5 linked regions of the Homo sapiens genome follow. The protein of the gene in region 1 purifies or fractionates together with the protein of each later gene. This does not show direct contact. Each region holds a gene or a part of one and is shown on either strand. Other genes may lie near its edges. The genes, in order: CHCHD6, SLC2A12, CTDSP2, HACD3 and SLC25A12.

Region 1 (3,963 bases):
GGCTCAAACTCCTGACTTCAAGCAATCCTCCTGCTTTAGCCTCCTAAATTCACTGGGATTACAGGATTGAGCCACCACACCTGGCCAGGTGAGTTATTCTTGCTAAGACCGATTAGGGAGAGTAAATCTTAGAATGTGGGTCTTAACCCATGGCTATGCAACAGACCCAACATGGCTGAACTACTAGAGGGCAAACGCCCAACCATGGCTGACACTGGGCCCCCTAAGCTGACCCACTGGGTCCTCTGACCATACTGAGGGCAATTTCCTCAAGGATGCTGAAGAGGTCAATCAGTAACAACTACTGTGAGCATCCACTGAGAACTCTGTAGGCCAGGTGCTGTGCTCATGTGCATGATATATATAAACATATTTAACCATGACAAGATCCCAATTAAAGAAGTACTCTTCTTAGCCCTTCTTAGATGCAGTGATATTTCAAGTTCACATAACTAGTAAGTTGCAGGATCAAGATGCCACCCTGTGCTCCACTGGGGCCTCTGTGCCTTAACCACTTTGCTAAAACTTCTCCGGCGACAGGAAGCAGGTCCCATGACAGAGGTGTGGCCAGCTCTTGGGGTCGTGGCCTGTGCTCACAAAGTTACCAACATCCTGGAGCCAGTTCATCTGGACAACCACAGTTAGCACTGGGAGGGCTCCACTTCCTCATCTCTCTAAAAACATGCCTGCATGTGCACACACATGCAGAAGTTCCAGCCACTCAACTGTTTAGTCCTAGCTTTTTTAAATGATTTTTTTTTTTTTTTTTTTTTTTTTTTTAGAGACAGGGTCACCAAGGCTGGAGTTCAGTGGTGCAATCACAGCTCCCTGCAGCCTCAGCTTCCTGAACTCAAGTGATTCTTCCACCTCAGCCTCCCGAGTAACTGGGACTACACAGGCACACACCACCACCCCCAGCTAATTTTTTATCTTTTAGAGACAGGGTCTTGCTATGTTGCCCAGGCTGGTCTCAAACTCCTGGCCTCAAGCAACCCTCCTGCCTTGGCCTCTCAAACTGCTGGGCATGAGGAACATTAACAATCAATTCCCCTATGCCCCTTTTGGTGTTTCTACATCTTTAAACTAGGACCAGTGATACCTATACCATAGGGTTGTCCTTCAATGCAACTGAGATTAATTATGTGAGACAAAGCCTCCAGGGCTTCAGGCAAGGAGAGGGGTACCCAGTGAGGAAAGAGGCTTTTAGGCGGAGCGCAGTGCCGGGAGCAAGCAGGCTCTCGGGCTCACCTCTTGACACCCTCCTTCATCCCTGAGGGCTGCTGGCCACCACTGCTCCCCGACCTGGGCAGTGTGGATTCTGCAAAGGAAAGAGAAGAAAGGGCCTGTCAGTGGCACCCCAGGGTCCACGAAGTCACAGAGGTCACCCAGAGAGGAATGACCCCCATGAATGAATGTGCCCCTTGGAAGGCAGCATCACAGATGTGTCCCCACAAAGGAGCGTCCACAGGGGCAGACAAGGAACACCCTTGATTCAAGCTGTCTGGAAAGCCAGATGATCCAAGCCACCTCTTATCCCGAAGGGGTCTCTGCACCAGGATGCCCACAACACTGGGTGCAGTGTTCCAAACCCATCCCTACTCTCCTGACAATTATTTGGAATCCAGGTCATCTCCTAAGCACAGGCCAGGAGTGGCTGCGGGAAGGTATTGCTTTGCTTCATGAGGACAACCTCCCGGGTAGAGGTTTTGGCATAGGGAAGGGAAGGGGTGGGGGCTCTTTAAATCTTGTTTCCCTTAGTACCCACCTGAGTCTGCACAATCCTCACTGTGGCAAATGCCCCATATTAAACCTAATTCTACTTAACCACTATCGCCTTTAGTATTATTGGGCTCTTTTTGTTGTTACAGTAGGTCCCTTTTGATCATCACGAATTTCGGGATTTCTGAGCAAATCCAATTCACTCTCCCCACCACTTGCTGATACTGAAGGTTTTGTTACTACCCTGTCCCCAGCCTTTACCCTTCCAAAGCTCTCTGTCAGCCAAAGCTCACCACCTTTCTTGGCCTTCTCCGATGTCCCACACCTCCCTCCACCACAGGGTTCTATGCACCAGCAGCCAGAACCACATAGAGCATAACATAAGAACCAGGCTGTGTGAGGCGCTCAATGAGGGTGTGCGACTCCACCCCAGACCCGTCAGGGATCCTTCGGGGGGCACTTCTGAAAGCATCAGCTGTGACTACTCGCACTTTCAAACCACCTCTCATGGGAGGAGAGCACCTCCCATGCTCCTCAGCAACACACCAGGTTCTCAACTGAGGTGAACTCAGGAGCCTGCTGCGGGGTTTCATCTCCACACTAGTGCTCGCCATGCTTATTTATTTGTCTGAAGAGCTTTACTGAGGTTTAATGTCTGGTATTTTTGCTTTTTATATAATTTTCCATTTTTTAACTACAAAAATAACGGGGCTGCCAATGTAGAGCATGTGGCACTCATCCTCACTGCCCTTTCTGTGTGCCCCTGCCCGCTCCCCGCTCCCTTGGAGTGCACATTGTTGAACATGTGTTTCTTTCAGTATTAGTGACGTGGAGATCCTGTCATGAGTATGGCCATCTGTGCACATTTCCTACTGAGTTGTCTTTCTTAAAGATCTTTAAGAACTCGCTACATATTAAGATTACTAGGACTTTGTCAAATGTTATATTTTCCCTAACTTATCCATTCCTGTTACTTCTTTTCTAAATTGTCTAATTTCTTATATTCACATTTCCTATTTTTTTTAATTTAAGGTTTCTTCGTTTAATATGACGTGTAGAAAATCTATCTTCTATTGTACTTTCATGGCTTCAAGCCATACATTTCAATCTTTTATTTCCTCTGACATTTTTGGGGGGTATAGTATGAGAAGAATTTAATTTTAATTTCTTTTTCTAACTTTGTTCCATCACTAAAATAAAGCAAAAACTGGTTTTAAAAGTACAAAATATCTTAAAATTAGTTAACTTTAAGACAGTCCATTTATGCTGACTCTTCAACATTCAGAAACAAAACTTACACCTATCATTTAAACAGCAAAGTACTTTGTTATAATTAACTCCAAGTGACAAAAGAACCACTGTTCTTGCTTTCTAAACTGCTGGAACTTACCAAACTGAAGCAAATGCTTCTTATTTCTTCTAAAGCTGAAACTGATGTGTAGTATTATATATTATGGCAATTTTCGCTTTTATCATCACTTTCTCCCTCTTTCGAGTTAATCCAGTTTGTTAAAGTGCATTGGGTCAAGTTAGACTCCTCTTAAGCCCTTCTCATCAGTTAGTTAGAGCCAGCGTGGGGAGTAAGTGAGCCCTATTAGTAAAGGACAAGGGCTTCTTGGAGGGTTTTCGGGAATCTCACACATCCCCTACAGTGGTAGATATTCAGAAAGATCTTGGGGTGGGTCCAAATCCAGGTGCTGACTGGCTCCTGGGCAATGCTTCTAGGCCCCCGAGCAGGCTGGGATGCACCCTGTCGCCGGACCTCCGCTCCTGCAATCTGCCCATTCGCAGTGCCCACCCACCACCATTCCTCCTGCCTTTCACAGTCCCTCTTCTCCCGTGAGCCTGGTACAGATTCCAGTGTTGCATCACAACATGACACATAACTCATCAGTCTCCATAACCAGAGCCAGGTGTGCCATGAGAGAGGGTCCCTGCCCACCTATCACTGTGTCTTGGCACAGGGCACAGGACTTGGTTCTGGGTGGCCTTCAGTAAACACTAAGTGGGCAGGATACAGCTCTCATATTCTAAACTCTTTCAACCCAACAGGGAAGATGAGTAGAAAAGGCAACTGTAACGCGAGACCAGGCCCAAGAAGAACAATCTAGTGGGTGGTTATCCACCTGAACAGTCGGTCCTTCCGTGGTGGCATGCTGCCTCCAGCCAATCTTTTTTTTTTTTTAATTGAGTTACGGAATCTGATAGACAGACCCAAGTTCTCAAAAACAAGTATGTTTTGAG
Region 2 (3,963 bases), on another chromosome or scaffold:
AAAAGCAGCAACATAAACAAGCAAGCTGGCTAAGGACAGCCATTTCAAAAAAGCTGGGACGTCCCCAGGGTCTGTGACTATCTGGTATTCAGTGTGGCTTAATCCAGCATTTAGCAAGGATGCTGAGGTCGTCTCCCCTCTCTTATCCACATCATTTCTCAGGGGCATGAGTGAGCTTCTGCTATGGGAAGAAATCCCTTTGAAGTGGTCTCTGAGAGTATTGTTGTTGGTTGACAGGTTTCCTGGTCCATAAATCACAGACTCATCCAAGGACTGGTTGATAGAATTGTGGCTTCTGCAGATATGGGTGAAGTTCATGTGGATGTTGAGATTTACGATGCCCATGGTCACCAACGAAGCTGCCATCACAGAGGAGCCAATGCAGAGGAATGTTTTGCTGCCGACATGGTCTACAAGAAGAGTGGCAGGGATGGTGCTAATGACCTTGACGACTCCAACCCCAGTGGAGGCGAGGCTAGCTGCCTCATTGCTTTGAAATCCAACTGACTTCAAAACAGTTGATGCATAGAACAATATGTTTGGTTGGCCAGTGATTTGTACAAAAAATACTAGTGTTAGTCCTATCATTATTCGGGTCCGCATGTTGTCTTTTGAACGAAACAGATCCCAAAAACTGTACTGATATTCATCTTTCAGGGAGGATTTGATCACAGTGAGTTCCTCAGTTGTATCTGAGAGTGCTCTTAACCTTCCAAGAACCTTGCTAGCAGCTCCCTCTTGTCCTTTCATCACCAGAAACCGAGGGCTTGGAGGAAGAAAATACATTGCAATTGCTTGCAAAACTCCCAAGGGAATCACAAGACCAAACATGTACTTCCAGCCATGGAAAACATTGGCAAATGCGTAATTTGAAATATAGGCAGAAAGAATGCCGATGACAATCATCAGCTCATTCAGTGACACAAGAAGGCCTCTTCTGTGTTGAGGAGCAATCTCTGCGATGTAAACACAAGTGGCAATGGAAGAGAGGGAGATGGAGACCCCTATGGCAATGCGTCCCACTATAAGAACCGTGTAGGATAAACTGAGGATCAAGACTAAGCTTCCGAGTCCAAGCAGGCAGGATGACAAGATGATTGCTGTCCTTCTTCCATATCTGTCTATCAGGACCCCTCCGGTGAGTGAGGCAAGGAGGGCTCCAATGACGAGGGAGCTCACAACCATTTCCTGCTCATGGCAGCTCAGGGCTAATAAGGTTTTGATCTGAAGAAGAGCCCCAGAGATGATCCCAAGTTCATAACCCACCAGGAGGCCACTGACAGCAGCAGTGACAGATGACAGGAAGGTAAACATGCCGCAGCCTGCAAGCAGAGAGAAGAGACAGGGAGGTCAGTTCTCAGTTGAGATTTTAAACATTTTGTATTTGAGCGGAGATTTAACCTTGTAGAAGTCTTTCATAGCACTGGGTTTAAACGAACACACAATTATGATAAAATAATACACTAACCAAAAAATGATTTGATATAGAAGGAGAAATCATTTTTCTTTCTTTTTTGGGAGGATAGGCATGGAGACATGTAGGAAGTCCAGTTTCCTTCTATTTATGATGTTGATGTTTTTGGTTTAGATCAGACAGTGATGTTGAGATAAGCAGATGACACATGATGAAGACTGAACAAACAAGAACATCATTTGGTTCATGACTTGGCAGTGGATCAGAAATTCAAAGAGCCTGACTCTTTGGTCCCATTCCAGTTCTCTAAAGGCAAATCTTTGAGGGCAGGAGAGAGAGGATAGGAGCCTCTAGAAGTGCTACAGCCTCCTTGCTGGATAGCCTGGGTCAAAATGAAACACAGCCTCCAGGAAACTTGCCCTCTTATCTCCTGGGCCACAGTCGTGCTGCAAATGGCCTCTGCTGAACACATGAGGGTGTTGGGGCAGAGGGTGGAGGTGGGAGTGGGCAGTGTGTGAATGCCTTAACAAAGTCAAGGTTTTGCTAAACAGAAGGAAGGAAGAAATGTATGTAGTGTAAGGAACCAGCAATATCCCTTACTCATTCTGAGTAAGGAGAAAGGGGGATGGAACACAGGCAGAACAAGGAGAATTTACCTTTATATTGTTCTTTCGTTAATGTTCAAATCCAAGGAAAAATGTCAAAAAGTTAGTAACTATTAATTTTTGGTGGTAGGAACACAGATGTTTGTTATATGTTTGCAACTTGTCAAAATAGAAATAAAACAAAACAAAAAAGCAACAGAGGGAAGAGTATTTCAGGCCCAGGAGAAAGTAATTTCCAAGGCCTTAGGACAGGAAAGTTCTCATTATGTTTTAGGAACTGTCAGATGGCCAACATATAACATGTGGGGCACATTGTGAGCCTGGAGCGGTAGGACGGAAAGGGCTTAAAATGAATTTGGATAAGTACAGAGGGGGCACTTCAAGTAGGGCCTTGTCGGTCACAGTGATGACTTTTCATTGTGTTCCAAGTATAATGGAGCCAACACCCACTGAGAGGTGTAGAGGGCATTGACGCTATAGGTTTCTTATTTATAAAGTCCACCTTCACTGCTATGTAGAGATTAGTTCTTCAAAATGCAAGACTGGCAAGACTGGTAGCAGGGAGGAGTTTGTTGCCTTGGTTTGGACAAGAGATAATGGTAGCTTAGACTTGGGTGTTAAGAGTGGAACTGGAGATAAGTAGGCAGATTCAAGACTTATTTTGGAGCTAAAAACCACTACACTTGTTCAGGGCTGGATGTGGTGGCTCACGCCTGTAATCCCAGCACTTTGGGAGGCTGAGGTGGGTGGATCTCCTGAGGTCAGGTGTTCAAGACCAGCCTGGCCAACATGGCAAAACCCCATCACTATTAAAAGTACAAAAATAGCTGGGCATGATGGTTCATGCCTTGTAGTCCCAGCTACTCAGGAGGCTGAGGCAGGAGAATCACTTGAACCCAGGAGGCAGAGGTTGCAGTGAGCTGAGATCATGCCACTGCACTCCACCCCGGGCAACAGAGCAAGACTCCATCTCACAAAAAAACAAAAAACAAAAAACAAACAACAAACAAAAAAAACATTACACTTGTTCAAGAATTGGAGATGGGGGATAAAAAATGGGTCAGAACCCAGGATGGCTCTGTGGCTTGAGCAGGTGGGTGGGTGATTTTACAATATTTGATATACTCAATACAGTACTATATGGGGCCAACACCCATTGAGAGATGTAGAGGGCATTGTACTATATACTGTGTAGCGCAACATACCAACATAGGGAAGATTAGGAATAGAACTGGTTGTGAGTGGTGATAAGAGGAGGGGCAAAAATCAAAAGTTTCATTTTGGACTTAGTAAAATGGTTTATTTATTTTATCTGTAAGACATTCAGGTAAAAATGTTAAGTAGGGGATTGGGTATACAGATTTGGAGCTTAAAGATAGGTCAAGCCTGGACATATGTATTTGGAAGCCAGCAGCACACATTTGGTATTTAAAGCCACAGGAATGGGTGAGATCACTTAGGAAGATAAAATAGGGGAAAAGGAAAAGCATGATCAAGACTGGGACCTAGGCAATGCCAATATTTAGAAGACTAGTGCCAGCAAAGGAGATGGAGAAGAATCAGAACTGAGGTGTAAGTCAAATGTTAGAAATGTGATTACACACACGGTTTTCATAGGCTGAGCTAAGGCTGCCTTTTCGGGGTTGGGGGAGGGTATAGTTAAAAATGCTATTCAGCTCTAGTGAAATAAGCAGGTCAAATAAAGGTGATCTAAAGCTCTACCACAAATACTCAAGGTATTTTCCATCTCCAGGATCCTAGTAGGCTATGGGAATTGGCAGCCCCAAAAATAAGGGGAAAAAAGCACTGAATATTTAGATGGAGGAGCAAATAAAGGTGCAATAATCCACAAGAAATAAAGCAAATTTATGAGCATTTTGAACAAAACCCAGTAAACTGAAATTAAATCAGCAATTTATCTAGCTAATCAGAAAACAAAATATT
Region 3 (3,963 bases), on another chromosome or scaffold:
TGGGGATTCCTGACATTCCTGCTTTAAAGAGAAAAGGCTGGAATAAACATGTATGTTTGACTGTTAACTGTATGTGGTTGTTCACCAGCCGTATACTGTGTGCCCTAGTAGAGTTTACAAACTAGAAGAGCTATGGGCATGGTAGTATCTGTGGACAGAAACTGATGTCCCTAGAGCTAAAGCCTCTGTCATTCTCTCCACCCTAGGCCTGGTCTCCAAGTCCTCTCCTAAGAAGCCTCGTGGACGTAACATCTTCAAGGCCCTTTTCTGCTGTTTTCGCGCCCAGCATGTTGGCCAGTCAAGTTCCTCCACTGAGCTCGCTGCGTATAAGGAGGAAGCAAACACCATTGCTAAGGTAGGTGGGTTGGGGTGGTAAGATGCCAGCAATGAAGGGACTGTTAATGGGAGATCCCTGCAGACGATGGCAACCGGACAAGGAAGCTTTGCCTGAAGTTGCAAAGATTTCTGGCTGAGAGGGGGCCCTTCCTCCATCCTTCCATAAGTAGTGTATTTCCTTTCTGTTCCTTCCCTTTTGCGGTGTGGGCCATTCACATGTCACTGTGGTTTCTGAGGGCCCCTGTGATCCTGATCCTTCCAGGTTCCAGGAACTAGGCAAGGTGCTTTGCATATATTGTCTCATGTGATCCAGCCAGCAGCCCTGTAAGGAGATCACAGGATTCACACTTTGCAGATATGGATTTATGTAGAGGGTTTATGTAGCACCTGAAGAGTTCATGGTTAATAAATAGTAGTGTCAGGATTTGAACTTAGATTTCTCTGGCTCTAAAGCCTGTGTTGTTGTTCTCAATTATGCAAAGCTAACTTCCAAGTTACCTGAGTTACAGGGAACCAAGGAATTGAAACTCTACCATGCTGTTAATAACTCCTGTCAGCAGTTCTCTCCCATACTCATGCAAGGCATTTGGGATTTTGTGGGTATTTTTTATATGTCTAGTATTTCACAGGTGGGGCCAGCCCCGACCAACAAAAATTATTCTGCCCCAAAAGCCAGTGGTACTTCTCTGAAACACTGAGGTCTGGTTGTCCTTCCTTTTTCTCAAGACCAGGCTGAAGACATACATCAGTGAAAAATCACTGCATTTTGCAGTAGGGGAAATGGTTAAATAAAATACAACATGACAGTATTACTGAGTGATTAGCTTTTACAGAGTTCTCAATAACATGGAGAAGTATTGAGTTGCAACATTAAGTAAAAAGGCAGAGTGTGTAATTGTATAGCATTCTGGAAAAAGTCTGCGGACACAGATTTGAAGGCAGTACACTGAATGCCACATTGTTTATCTAAGTGCTAGGATTTTAATTTTTCTTCAAAGTTTTCATTAAGAACACTTAAAACCATAACTTTTTTTTTTTTTTTTTTGAGATGGAGTTTCGCTCTTGTTGCTCAGGCTGGAGTGCAATGGCGTGCGATCTTGGCTCACCGCAACCTCCGCCTCCCGGGTTCAAGCGATTCTCCTGCCTCAGTCTCCCGAGTAGCTGGGATTACAGGCATGTGCCACCACGACCGGCTAATTTTGTATTTTTAGTAGAGACGGAGTTTCTCCATGTTGATCAGGCTGGTCTCGAACTCCTGACCTCAGGTGATCCGCGCGCCTCGGCCTCCCAAAGTGCTGGGATTACAGGCATGAGCCACTGCGCCCGGCGGTCATAACATTTGTATTAGCAAAAATTGGGGTGGGGGGCTTGCTGATCTCTCTGCACTCCCTCCCCTCACATTTTGGGTACCTACAATGTGGCTTACTTGATGTTTTATAGGGCTTGTTCCCCCACATAACCCCTAAGGAGGGCATGGAAAACAACATGTTCTCAAGGAGAAGCCTGAGTTTAAGGACTTAGCGAGAGTTTGCCACTGTGAGGAATTCAGACTTTGGTTCTGCCTCTGACTCTGTGTCCCTGAATCAGTTACTTGAGTTCCCTGTTCCTCACTTTGTCCAGTTGAGAGGCAGTGGCAGCCGAGAACAGGGACACTTGTCTTCTCCATCCTTCATCAGGCCTAATGTGGAAAGGAAGCTCTAGCCTTTCCCTTTTCCTGCCCCACTCCTAGGAAAAGTCACTTTTGACATGGTAGGAGCTTCCAGGTGGCTGGGTCTGGGGGAGAAAGTTGCCCTCCAGGCTTAAGACAGAAGCAGTGGGTTTGGATGGGGTGGGAAAGGCAGTGAGATGGCACTGACCACCTCCTTCTCTTCCTCAGTCGGATCTGCTCCAGTGTCTCCAGTACCAGTTCTACCAGGTACGTGACTCTGGCCTGGTAAGTACTCAGAAGCCAGGATCCTGTGATCCCTGCCAGCTCCACGGGCAGGGTGATGTGCATAGTCCTTGGTGCCTAGCCAGCCACCTCCCTGACCTGGGAAGCCATTTGTTCCCCATACTTGTTGAGGGCCTGCTATGTGCAAGGCATTAGATTTTAGGGGACAGCTGGTGCTCCATGCCCTCTTCCCACAGCTGCTGTCCATCCCACACCTGCCCTGGCCACCACCTCCAATGTCCAGATCACTTAATAGTCCCACTGGGAGGCTGAAACCAAGGAAACAACTCCACCTCCTTTCTTCCTGGCCTTTAAGTGGTGCCTATCCTGGGTTGGTGATTGTGTCTCCACAAACAACCCAGCTCTTCCCATAATTATGCCAAGGGGTACAATTGGGCTTTCTTGGTAGGCAGATCTCAGCAACCTGGCTTGGTTTTAGATCCCAGGGACCTGCCTGCTCCCAGAGGTGACAGAGGAAGATCAAGGAAGGATCTGTGTGGTCATTGACCTCGATGAAACCCTTGTGCATAGCTCCTTTAAGGTAACTCAATGTCTGGAACCCTTCCTACCTTTATCTTGGGCCTTCTTGTGAATCTGGCAACAGATGTGTAAGGCAGCCTAAAGGTGAGGAAAGAAGAGTGATTAGAAGGGAAAAGGCCAGGCCTCTGGCATTTTGGCCACCCTGTGTCACAGGTATCTAGAGGCCCCACTGAAGAATGTTGAGTAGGAACCCTGTGTGTTCCACCAGGGCTGCTATCTCCAGTCACTCCCAACAGGCTGCATCTGCCCCCGAGCCACATAGCACAGAAAGCCAGCCACGAGGGCTCTGTACAGGGCAGGCCTAAAAGAGTGGTTGGATCACCTTTGGCCCTTGCCCCTGCTTGTCTCCTCAGGAAACTCAGGCCCCAAAACTCTCAGCCCAGGTAGAATTTGTCAGAGTGGAGGTGCTAAGGAGTAGGGAAAACCAGAATGGGGTATCACATCTTGAACTAGGGTGAGAACCCCTTAATGAGGTGGCCAGAGGCACTTCCAGGAGTCTTTAAGACCTGTTTCTCCCCACCCACCTAGGGGTATGGTGGGGGCCTCATGTTTCTTTGCCACCATGCTGACAGCATTAACTTTTCTGCCTTCCAGCCAATCAACAATGCTGACTTCATAGTGCCTATAGAGATTGAGGGGACCACTCACCAGGTGAGCTGCCAGCCAGACCACACCCAGCCCAGAGGGTGGGGGGTCTGCCTTCTGCCTCACCTGTACTGGGGTCCTCCACCCATCTCAGGGCTTGGGTTCTGTCAGTTGATCCCTTTTCTATAACTCCAGCCTCCCCTTTTTATTGGTATCTTTCACTCAAGGCTTTCTCACCTTAAAAAAAGAGTTTCAGCCCCATATCCCACCCAGCTGTCTCCCTTGTTTTCTCTTTGCAACCAAGCTGTTTAAAAGAATAGTTTACATTTTATTTAATAATAATAATAGCTATCGTTTGTTAACCACCATCCCCTCACGTGGCCAGCACTGTTAAATGATTTATTACATTTCTCTGTTCCTTAAGAAAGGTATCTATACCTGTTAAGATACCTTAACCAGGTATCTCTTTGCCTGTAACAGGCAGGGAAATCAGTAGTAACCATTTTCTCTGCCCGGAATGCCCTCTTGCCCATGCTCCCCCTGCCACCCCCACTGTGAATAGCTAGTGACTT
Region 4 (3,963 bases), on another chromosome or scaffold:
TAAGAGAATGTCGTGGCTGATTTATATTCTATCCAGACCACTCAAACTTTCTTCATATCAGCAATATGGATATTTTGCTTTCTTATCATTTGGGTGTTCACTGGAATAGCACTTTTAATTTCCTTCAAAAATTGTTTCTTTGCATTCACAACTTGGCTGCTTGGTGCAAGAGGCCTAGCTTTCAGCCTGTCTCAGTTTTGACATGCCTTCCTCACTAAGCTTAATGATTTCTAGCTTTTGATTTAAAGTGAGACATGTGCAACTCTTCACTTTAACACTTAGAAGCCACTGTAGGGCTTGTTTGTTTGTTTTGTTTTTGAGACAGAGTCTCACTCTGCCACTGGAGTGCGGTGGCGTGATCTCAGCTCACCCAACTTCAGCCTCCCAGGTTGAAGTGATTCTCCTGCCTCAGCCTCCTGAGTAGTTAGGATTACAGGCACCCGCCACCACACCTAGCTAATTTTTGTATATTTTTAGTAGAGACGGGGTTTCACCATGTTGGCCAGGCTGGTCTCCTGACCTCAAGTGACACACCCACCACAGCCTCCCAAAGTGCTGGGATTACAGGCATGAGCCATCACACCCGACCCCATTGTAGGGTTATTAACTGGCTTAATTTCAATATTGTTGTGTCTCAGAGGAGAGGCCCAAGGAGAGGGAGAGAGATGGAGGAATGGCCAGTGAGAGCAGTCAGAACACATACATTTATCGATTAAGTTCACCATCTTATATAGGTGCATTTCATTTTGCCATAAAACAATCACAATGGTGGCTGGGCACAGTGGCTCAAACCTGTAATCCCAGCACTTTGGGAGGCCGAGGTGGGCAGGCCACTTGAGCTTAGGAGTTCGAGACCAACCTCGTCTCTACAAAAAATACAAAAACTAGCTGGGCACAGTGGCACATGCCTGCAGTCCCAGCTACTTGGGAAGCAGAGGTGGAAGGATCACTTGAGGCTGGGAGGCGGAGGTTGCGGTGGGCCAAGATCACACCACTGCACTCCAGCCTGGGTGACAGAGTGAGACCCTGTCTCAAAAATAAATAAATAAATAATAAACAATCACAATAGTAACATCAAGGCTAGGCACAGTGGTTCAAGCCTGTAACCTCAGGGATCTGGGAGGCCAAGGCAAGAGGATTGCTTAAGTCCAGGAGTTCAAGACCAGCCTGGCCAACATAATGAGACCCCACCTCTAAAAAAATTAAAAAATTGAAAATTAGCTAGGCAGGTACCTGTAGTCCTACTTGGTAGGCTGAGCCAGGAGGACTGCTCAAACCCAGGAGTTCAAGGCTACGGTGAGCTATGATCACACTGCTGCACTCCAACCTGGGCAACAGAGTGAGACCCTGCCTCAAAAAAAAAAAAAAAGTTAACATCAAAGATCACTGATCACAGATCACCAGAACAGATATAATAATAATGAAAAAATCTGAACTATTCCAAGAATTAACAAAATACAACACAGAGACACTAAATGAACACATGCTGTTGGAAAAATGACGCCAACAGACTTTGTTGCCACAACCTTCAATTTGTCAAAACCGCATTATCTGCAAAGCACAATAAAGCAAAGCACAATAAAACAAGGTATGCCTGTACATGTGCCTGGTCATAATTGCAGTCAAGCATCTTTTCAGACTTATTGGTCATTCTTGTTTCCTTTTACTCTGAAATGTTTATATTATCTGCCCCTTTTTCTATTAGGTAATACGTCTTTTGCCTATTGGTCTGTAGGTGTTCTTTAAATAGTCGTGATATTAGTCATCTCTCAATGATATGCACTGCAAATGTCTTCTTCAAGTTTGTCTTAAATGTGCCAATCTTTGTCTTTAGGGTTTGTGTTTTGTGCATCTTGCTTAACACATTCTCCCCCTTTCCAATATTATAAAGATAGTCTCCTATATTTCTTTTTAGTAGTTTTTCTTTATGCGTTTAGGTCATTAATGCACCTGAAACTGATTTTTGTGTATGGCATAAGGCAGGATCTTATTTTCTTTTTGCCATTTGGATTACCAATTGTCCCAGTACAATTTCCTGAATGGGTCATTCTCTCCTCATTAATTTGTAAGAGCGCCTCTTGTCATACCTTAACTTTTCATATATGAATAGGTCTGCTAATAGGCTCTATTCTTCCATTGCTCTGTGACCATCCCTCTCATCTAAGGTTTAATATCGCAATCATCATAATCACTCACTTGAACTGCACACTAGAATTTGCAAAGCACTTTCAAATCCATTTTCCAATTCAAATCTCAAAATGGTCCTATGAGTTAGGCACTACTGTTCATATCTGTCTGGATGAAGAGCGTCAGGTTCATAAAGGTTAAGTGAATCATGGTCACTAGAGCATAAGTGTAATAAGAACAAGGACCCAATCTCATGTGTTCAGTTAGCACTCTTTCCACCAGACTCTGTTAGGTAAGGACAGGAACAATATCTTTCAAACAGCTCTCAAACACAGCTACGCTCTGTTCTCTGCTCACAACACCCAAAACAAACAAGCACCTTGTAAATAAACCAATGCTTTAACAACTATGTTTCTCGGGACAAACACGTTCATTATGTTCATCGTGAAAGTAAATTCAATCTTGAAAGTAACCCTGCTTTAGCTGGCCTCTTTGCTACCGTTCACCTCAAGCACAGACGATGCCACTGCTGAAGTCTTTATTGTCCACCATTTCTCCTCACATCAGCCGTGTTCTCTCATAGTCACTAGCCCTGCAGCATCCAAGACAGAATAGAGATGTGATGACTGGACAGTTCCCTGTGTCAGGATGGAGGGAGACAGAGCCAATGCCTCCAAACTGGAACTTAACACTTTAAAACTCACACTTACACATAAGCTGTGGGTCATGCTATAGAAAGCAGAGAGTGTTAAAGTGCTGTCCAAGAACCCCACACCTAGCTTAATGATAGACAAGAGTAGGTACTCCATAAACGATTTTTACTGAACAAATAAATGAAGTGCTTCATCCAGAGCCAGAACCACTGGTTTCTTTTCTTTTTTTTTTTTTTTGAGACGGAGTCTCGCTCTGTCCCCCAGGCTGGAGTGCAGTGGCGCAGTCTCGGCTCACTGCAAGCTCCACCTCCCGGGTTCACGCCATTCTCCTGCCTCAGCCTCCTGGTAGCTGGGACTATAGGCGCCCGCCACCACGCCTGGCTAATTTTTTTGTATTTTTAGTAGAGACGAGGTTTCACCGTGTTAGCCAGGATGGTCTCGATCTCCTGACCTCATGATCCGCCCGTCTCGGCCTCCCATAGTGCTGGGATTACAGGCATGAGCCACCACACCCGGCTGCTTTTCTTTCTTTTTTTTTTTTTTAAATAACAAATCTGCACATGTAAAACCACTGGTTTCAACAGGCCCTGCATAGAGCAATCAGTTGAGAAAGAAAAAAAAAAGGCAACCCGTGACACTCCAGAAGCAGGCATAGCACTCACAGCCAGGCCATGTTATTCTCCTATGGGACATAAACAATCTCACAGAATACCAACCTCAGACAAGGTTACTCTGAAATCCTCATAAAATGAGACAAAGGCCATTTCACAATTTTGTTATAAGCACAGACAAATACATAGTGGCTATGCCACTCACGAAATACCAAACACCCTTTGGCCAAATTGAGTGACTGCTACTCCTGTAGCAATTACAGTTTTGTTCTTATACTAGTCTCCCTGCCCTACAGGTAAGATTTATTCAGATACCCAACCACGAAACTCCCATATTTTCTTACAGGATCTTATCTGAAGTGAAACCCAACCTCCTTAACCCTCCCCTCCCCTAATCACCAACACCCAAATCCTATAATCAGTTCTAACACCCTCCTAATGAAACACCCCAGGGTTCCCCATGGAGTATGCTCTCTCAATGCAATGAGTAATAAACCCAACTTGTTTAACTACGGGTGTGTTATTGGTGGCCTTTGGGCATTGACACGGCTTAAGTCAGAGATTACAAGTGT
Region 5 (4,698 bases), on another chromosome or scaffold:
CTTCTGATTTTTGATACCCCTCTCTTCCATTTCCACCAAAACGAGAATTTATTTCAATGACAGCAAATGTTCATATAGGGAGAATAGTTGTACAGTATAGAGAAGCCCTAAAGTGTGTCATTTATCTAGTGTCTAATTATAAGTGGCTTGGGCGAAACCCCATAGCTACTAAAAATACAAAATTAGCCAGGCATGGTGGCGTGCACCTGTAATCCCAGCTACTTGGGAGGCTGAGGCAGGAGAATTGCTTGAACCCAGGAGGCAGAGGTTGCAGTGAGCCAAGATGGCGCCACTGCACTCCAGCCTGGGCGATAGAGCGAGACTCCGTCTCAAAAAATTAAAAATGAAAACATACACAGGGTCGGGCGCGGTGGCTCACGCCTGTAATCCCAGCACTTTGGGAAGCCGAGGTGGGCGGATCACCAGAGGTCAGAAGTTTGAGACAAACCTGGCCAACATAGTGAAACCCTGTCTCTACTAAAAATACAAAAAATTAACTGGGCATTGCGGCGGGTGCCTGTAATCCCAGCTACTCGGGAGGCCAAGGCAAGAGAATCTCTTGAACCTGGGAGGTGGACGTTGCAGTGAGTCAAGATGGTGCCACTGCACTCCAGCCTGGGCGACAGAGCGAGACTCAGTCTCAACACACACACACACAGACACACATACACACAATACACATGTGATTGGGGTTGTGGAGAAGCATTGACCATCTGTAAGCCCCTAGAGGGTGGGGGCTATAGGTTATTTGCGTTTTTTACAAGCAGGACCATGTCAGGCATATAATGGATGCCCATACATGTTTGAATCAATATGTAGCCTAATACAGTGATATTGGCAAGACGGGTTTAGAAACATTGTTTTGGTTCAAGATAGAGTTACTGCTTCTTCTACTTCTTAGGTAGGGCTAGAAATCGAATGGAGAATTACTTTCTGTTCATGTATGGGCAAGCGATTCATTGCCAGCCCTGTCAAAGACACATAGAGTTTTTTTTCTCATTGCACACAGGATTTGGGTGATTAGGAAAGTGGAGCGAGTCTACTAATAAACCGTTGTAATAGCACGCAAAGCAAAAATAAATTCAGCGTATTCGTCCCATGCCAATTTAGGAGCATATTTCTCAAATTATGTTTACGTAGGTTTTCCCTAGAGTGAGTGGTTCCCAATCTTGTTTTGTCGGTATTTGCCATCAGTTGTCATTAATTCATTGTTATTAATGGGAAGTGCTCTTTGATCCGTCGGAACCTTGCTCAGTATAGGCCCCAAATGTTCCTTTAAGCCTCGGGGAAAACGACTTTGGCTGGTCGGTGCCCAAAGCCACACCCACTAAGAGGCCTTAGGAAACCTGGGGCTTTCCTGGCGGCGACCTAGCTGTGGCAACCACGCGGCGCGTCGGGATCCCATGGGTCGCGCTTGTTTTCCCCGTGGGAGGCGCGTCCCCCTCCTCCGCCCGGCCGGCCGGCCCTGGACCAGCTGCCTTTCTGGCCGGGACGCCGGGCCCCTTTCCGCACGCGGCGCGCCCCGAGTTCATTTGCATAGGGACGCGCGCGGCGCCGGCGAGAGGGAGGGCGGGCGCGGCCGGGAAGACGGCGCGCGCGCGCCCTGACAGCTCGGCCCTGCTCGCTCACTCGCTCGTCCCCGGCTTCCGAGCACAGCATGGCGGTCAAGGTGACTCCAACTCTCTGCTGCTGCTTTTATTGCATAAGAGACATTCCGAGCGCCCTGCCTGCAGCCCCCCACTGCTTCCCATTTTATTCATTGTCTAGGTCTTAGATAGCTTGTCCTGGGGCTCCGGCTTGCTGCGGGGAGAGCTGTGCGGGGCTTGGACCGGAGGAGGGGATGCCCGGCTGGGGGAGGGGAAGGAGGAGGGATTGTGAGTTGAAGGGGCTTGTACGGTAACACGGGTCAGTGAAGGAAGAGTAATGTCCTGTCCTAGGTGCATGGGATTGTGAGTCCGGAGTTGGAGGGCATCAGAAAGGGTGTGGGAGGAAGTGGCAAGTAAAGCTGGGGATACCTAGGGTATCAGTGAATTGCGGTGGGGGAGGGAGTAAGTATTGAGTAATTTGGGGCCTCAATAAGGCCGAGGGCAGTGGTTGGCTTTTGCGTTGCAGATTGCAGGGTATGGAAAGTATTTGTATTTGTGGCAGCTCTCATATTTTAGGTTGGATGGGGAGAGGGACGCGGAGATAATTACATGTTGGGTTTGCTTTTTATGGAGAAAGGCTGCTAGGCCAAGTGATTAATTTGGGTGATTTAACTTTCCTGTTGATCTACTCTTGTTAGCTTCTTGATTTGAAGGTGGGTGGTTACTACTGTGTTGCTAGTAGATGTGGAATAAAGTAAAAGATCCTCATTGCCTTCCCTTTCCAGTCCAGAGGAAGCACTGTCCGATAGCTTTGCTGTATCTTAGGCTATTCGCACCTGTTTTTCTGCCCTCTAGTCACAGTTATCCAGTTTGACAGTTCTTATCAGCAATTAGGGCTTTTAGTTTGTTTTAAACTAAATGATAAAAGATAGGAGCATTGATTGTTAGCCATGTGACCTCTAATCTGAAGAGATTGTGTGGTCTCTAGTGAAGCATTAACTGGCTTTTTTTTCTTTTTTGCTTACAGGTGCAGACAACTAAGCGAGGGGATCCTCATGAGTTAAGAAACATATTTCTACAGGTAAATTGGCTTGCATAGTGTGCCTTTCATTGCAAAAACAAAAAACGTACATGTCCTTAGTCCTATTCATGCCTTAACTTTGAGGAATGTTCAGTTTTCATGTATTCTTTCAAACATGACCGGACAATATAGCTTATACTTCTCTTAATAAGGTTTGATTTAAGGCCTTCTTTTAATTAAGGGTCGATAAAAGGTTTTCCTCAAGTTACTGCTTTTTTTTTTACATGACTTAAGATATATATTTTGAAAAAAAATTTCCAGCTTAAGCACAGAGACCAAGATAAAATTTCAAAATGTATTGGCATTCTTGTATAGTTAATAGGTATGATGACTAAAATTCTCTTCCTTGAAAGTTGCATGTTTACAAAGTTTTCCTACTTATGAGCTATCCTCCATGTAATTTGTTACAGAGATAAGAATATTATAGCTATTCTTAATTTGTGTGTCTTACTTACATTGTATCCTTAAGCCTTGGGGATTTTACCCCAAAATGTTACCTCTTAAGATTCTTGCAATGGTCTACCTTAACTTCTAAGCTTTTAGAATCAGTGACTTGGCTGTAGACTTAAAAAGAAAAGAAAAAAGAAAAAAAAAAGGTTGGCTTAGTTTTTTGTTTTGCTTTCTTTTCTTAAATTTCAAAAGTTTCCTATGCAGGAAATTGTACTTAAGAAGTAGATGTAGGCCGGGCGCGGTGGCTCACGCCTGTAATTCCAGTATTTTGGGAGGCCGAGGCGGGTGGACCATGAGGTCAGGAGATCGAGACCATCCTGGCTAACACGGTGAAACCCCGTCTCTACTAAAAATACAAAAAATTAGCCGGGCGTGGTGGTGGGCGCCTGTAGTCCCAGCTACTCGGGAGGCTGAGGCAGGAGAATGGCGTTAACCCGGGAAGCGGAGCTTGCAGTGAGTCGAGATCGTGCCACTGCACTCCAGCCTGGGGACAGAGAGACACTGTCTCAAAAAAAAAAAAAAGTAGATGTAAAGGGAGGCAAGCTAAGGTGTTTCACCAAATATTGCATTTCTCTCTGAAATCTTTTGAGAACTTTCTATTCTGGACCTGGGTTCTTATGAAGACACTTTGACCTTGGGCAGGTCCCTGCTGTGTATTATTTTCCTCTGTGAAATGAGAGGTGATCTCCAAGGTTCCTTCCCATTCCAAAAGTCTATGAGTCTATTTTAGGAACAGATTCTAACATATGCTGATGAGCCTGGAATAGATGACATTTTTATTTGAGATATGTGGTTTGCTTAAGCTATTGTTGGGTAAGACGCTGCGTAGTTGAGCATACATATGTGTAGTTTATGAAAAATAATTTGTGAAAATGGGAATCTTAAAGGTCATAATATCTGATAAGGGAAGTATTTTTTTCCAGAACAGAAGTAATTATAATAACAGAAATGGTCCATTTATGACTTGAAACCTTTATTCCTTGCAGGCATTCTTGAAAATAGCCAAAAATATATCGGTATTCACCATACCATGTGATTATAGTCAATTGTTTTGTGAAGAGTTCATGTGATATAGTTAATTTTATGTTCTAGACTAAGTAGATGCGGAAGAAATGAGTTGAAATGCTGCATGATGTAGTGAAAAGAATACTGCCTAGGTATCTGAGTACTGCCTAGGAATACGGAGTTAATTCCCAGCCCTGCATTTATCTGGTTCTTGTACCCTTAGGCTAATCATCTGGCCTTCCTGAGTTTCAGCTTCTCATGTGGGACTCAGTGGGACATAAAGGAATGGGAATTGAGGTCTTTCTAGCTTTAAAAATTCTATGGGAAAAAAATATACTGTGATTCTGTATGGATTTGTTTTTTGTTTTTGAGTGGGGGTAGAGGTGGGTTGGAGGTATGAGGAGAATGGCGAGGACTGTCCCTAGCTCTTTGACAACTTTTTTTTTTTTTTGAGATGGAGTCTCGCTCTGTCGCCCAGGCTGGAATGCACTGGCGTGATCTTGGCTCACTGCAACTTCTGCCTCCGGGGTTCAAGCAATTCTCTTGCCTCCGAGTAGCTGGGATTACAGGCATGTG

The links.
Region 2: the proteins of CHCHD6 (region 1) and SLC2A12 purify together in Homo sapiens (co-immunoprecipitation; one large-scale study listed by IntAct). This does not show direct contact.
Region 3: the proteins of CHCHD6 (region 1) and CTDSP2 purify together in Homo sapiens (co-immunoprecipitation; one large-scale study listed by IntAct). This does not show direct contact.
Region 4: the proteins of CHCHD6 (region 1) and HACD3 fractionate together in Homo sapiens (co-fractionation; one large-scale study listed by BioGRID). This does not show direct contact.
Region 5: the proteins of CHCHD6 (region 1) and SLC25A12 fractionate together in Homo sapiens (co-fractionation; one large-scale study listed by BioGRID). This does not show direct contact.

What each region holds. Positions count from the first base shown.
Region 1 is NC_000003.12:126,727,916-126,731,878, reverse strand, and holds part of CHCHD6 (MICOS complex subunit MIC25), read right to left. Parts: intron 1,319-3,963; coding exon 1,249-1,318; intron 1-1,248. UniProt on the Homo sapiens protein: Component of the MICOS complex, a large protein complex of the mitochondrial inner membrane that plays crucial roles in the maintenance of crista junctions, inner membrane architecture, and formation of contact sites to the outer membrane.
Region 2 is NC_000006.12:134,028,400-134,032,362, forward strand, and holds part of SLC2A12 (solute carrier family 2, facilitated glucose transporter member 12), read right to left. Parts: intron 1,323-3,963; coding exon 1-1,322. UniProt on the Homo sapiens protein: Insulin-independent facilitative glucose transporter.
Region 3 is NC_000012.12:57,825,840-57,829,802, reverse strand, and holds part of CTDSP2 (carboxy-terminal domain RNA polymerase II polypeptide A small phosphatase 2), read left to right. Parts: intron 1-206; coding exon 207-355; intron 356-2,212; coding exon 2,213-2,251; coding exon of another isoform or gene 2,252-2,269; intron 2,270-2,705; coding exon 2,706-2,807; intron 2,808-3,400; coding exon 3,401-3,457; intron 3,458-3,963. UniProt on the Homo sapiens protein: Preferentially catalyzes the dephosphorylation of 'Ser-5' within the tandem 7 residue repeats in the C-terminal domain (CTD) of the largest RNA polymerase II subunit POLR2A.
Region 4 is NC_000015.10:65,533,105-65,537,067, reverse strand, and holds part of HACD3 (very-long-chain (3R)-3-hydroxyacyl-CoA dehydratase 3), read right to left. Parts: intron 1-3,963. UniProt on the Homo sapiens protein: Catalyzes the third of the four reactions of the long-chain fatty acids elongation cycle. This endoplasmic reticulum-bound enzymatic process, allows the addition of two carbons to the chain of long- and very long-chain fatty acids/VLCFAs per cycle.
Region 5 is NC_000002.12:171,891,174-171,895,871, reverse strand, and holds the start of SLC25A12 (electrogenic aspartate/glutamate antiporter SLC25A12, mitochondrial), read left to right. Parts: upstream 1-1,627; 5' UTR 1,628-1,657; coding exon 1,658-1,669; intron 1,670-2,613; coding exon 2,614-2,667; intron 2,668-4,698. UniProt on the Homo sapiens protein: Mitochondrial electrogenic aspartate/glutamate antiporter that favors efflux of aspartate and entry of glutamate and proton within the mitochondria as part of the malate-aspartate shuttle.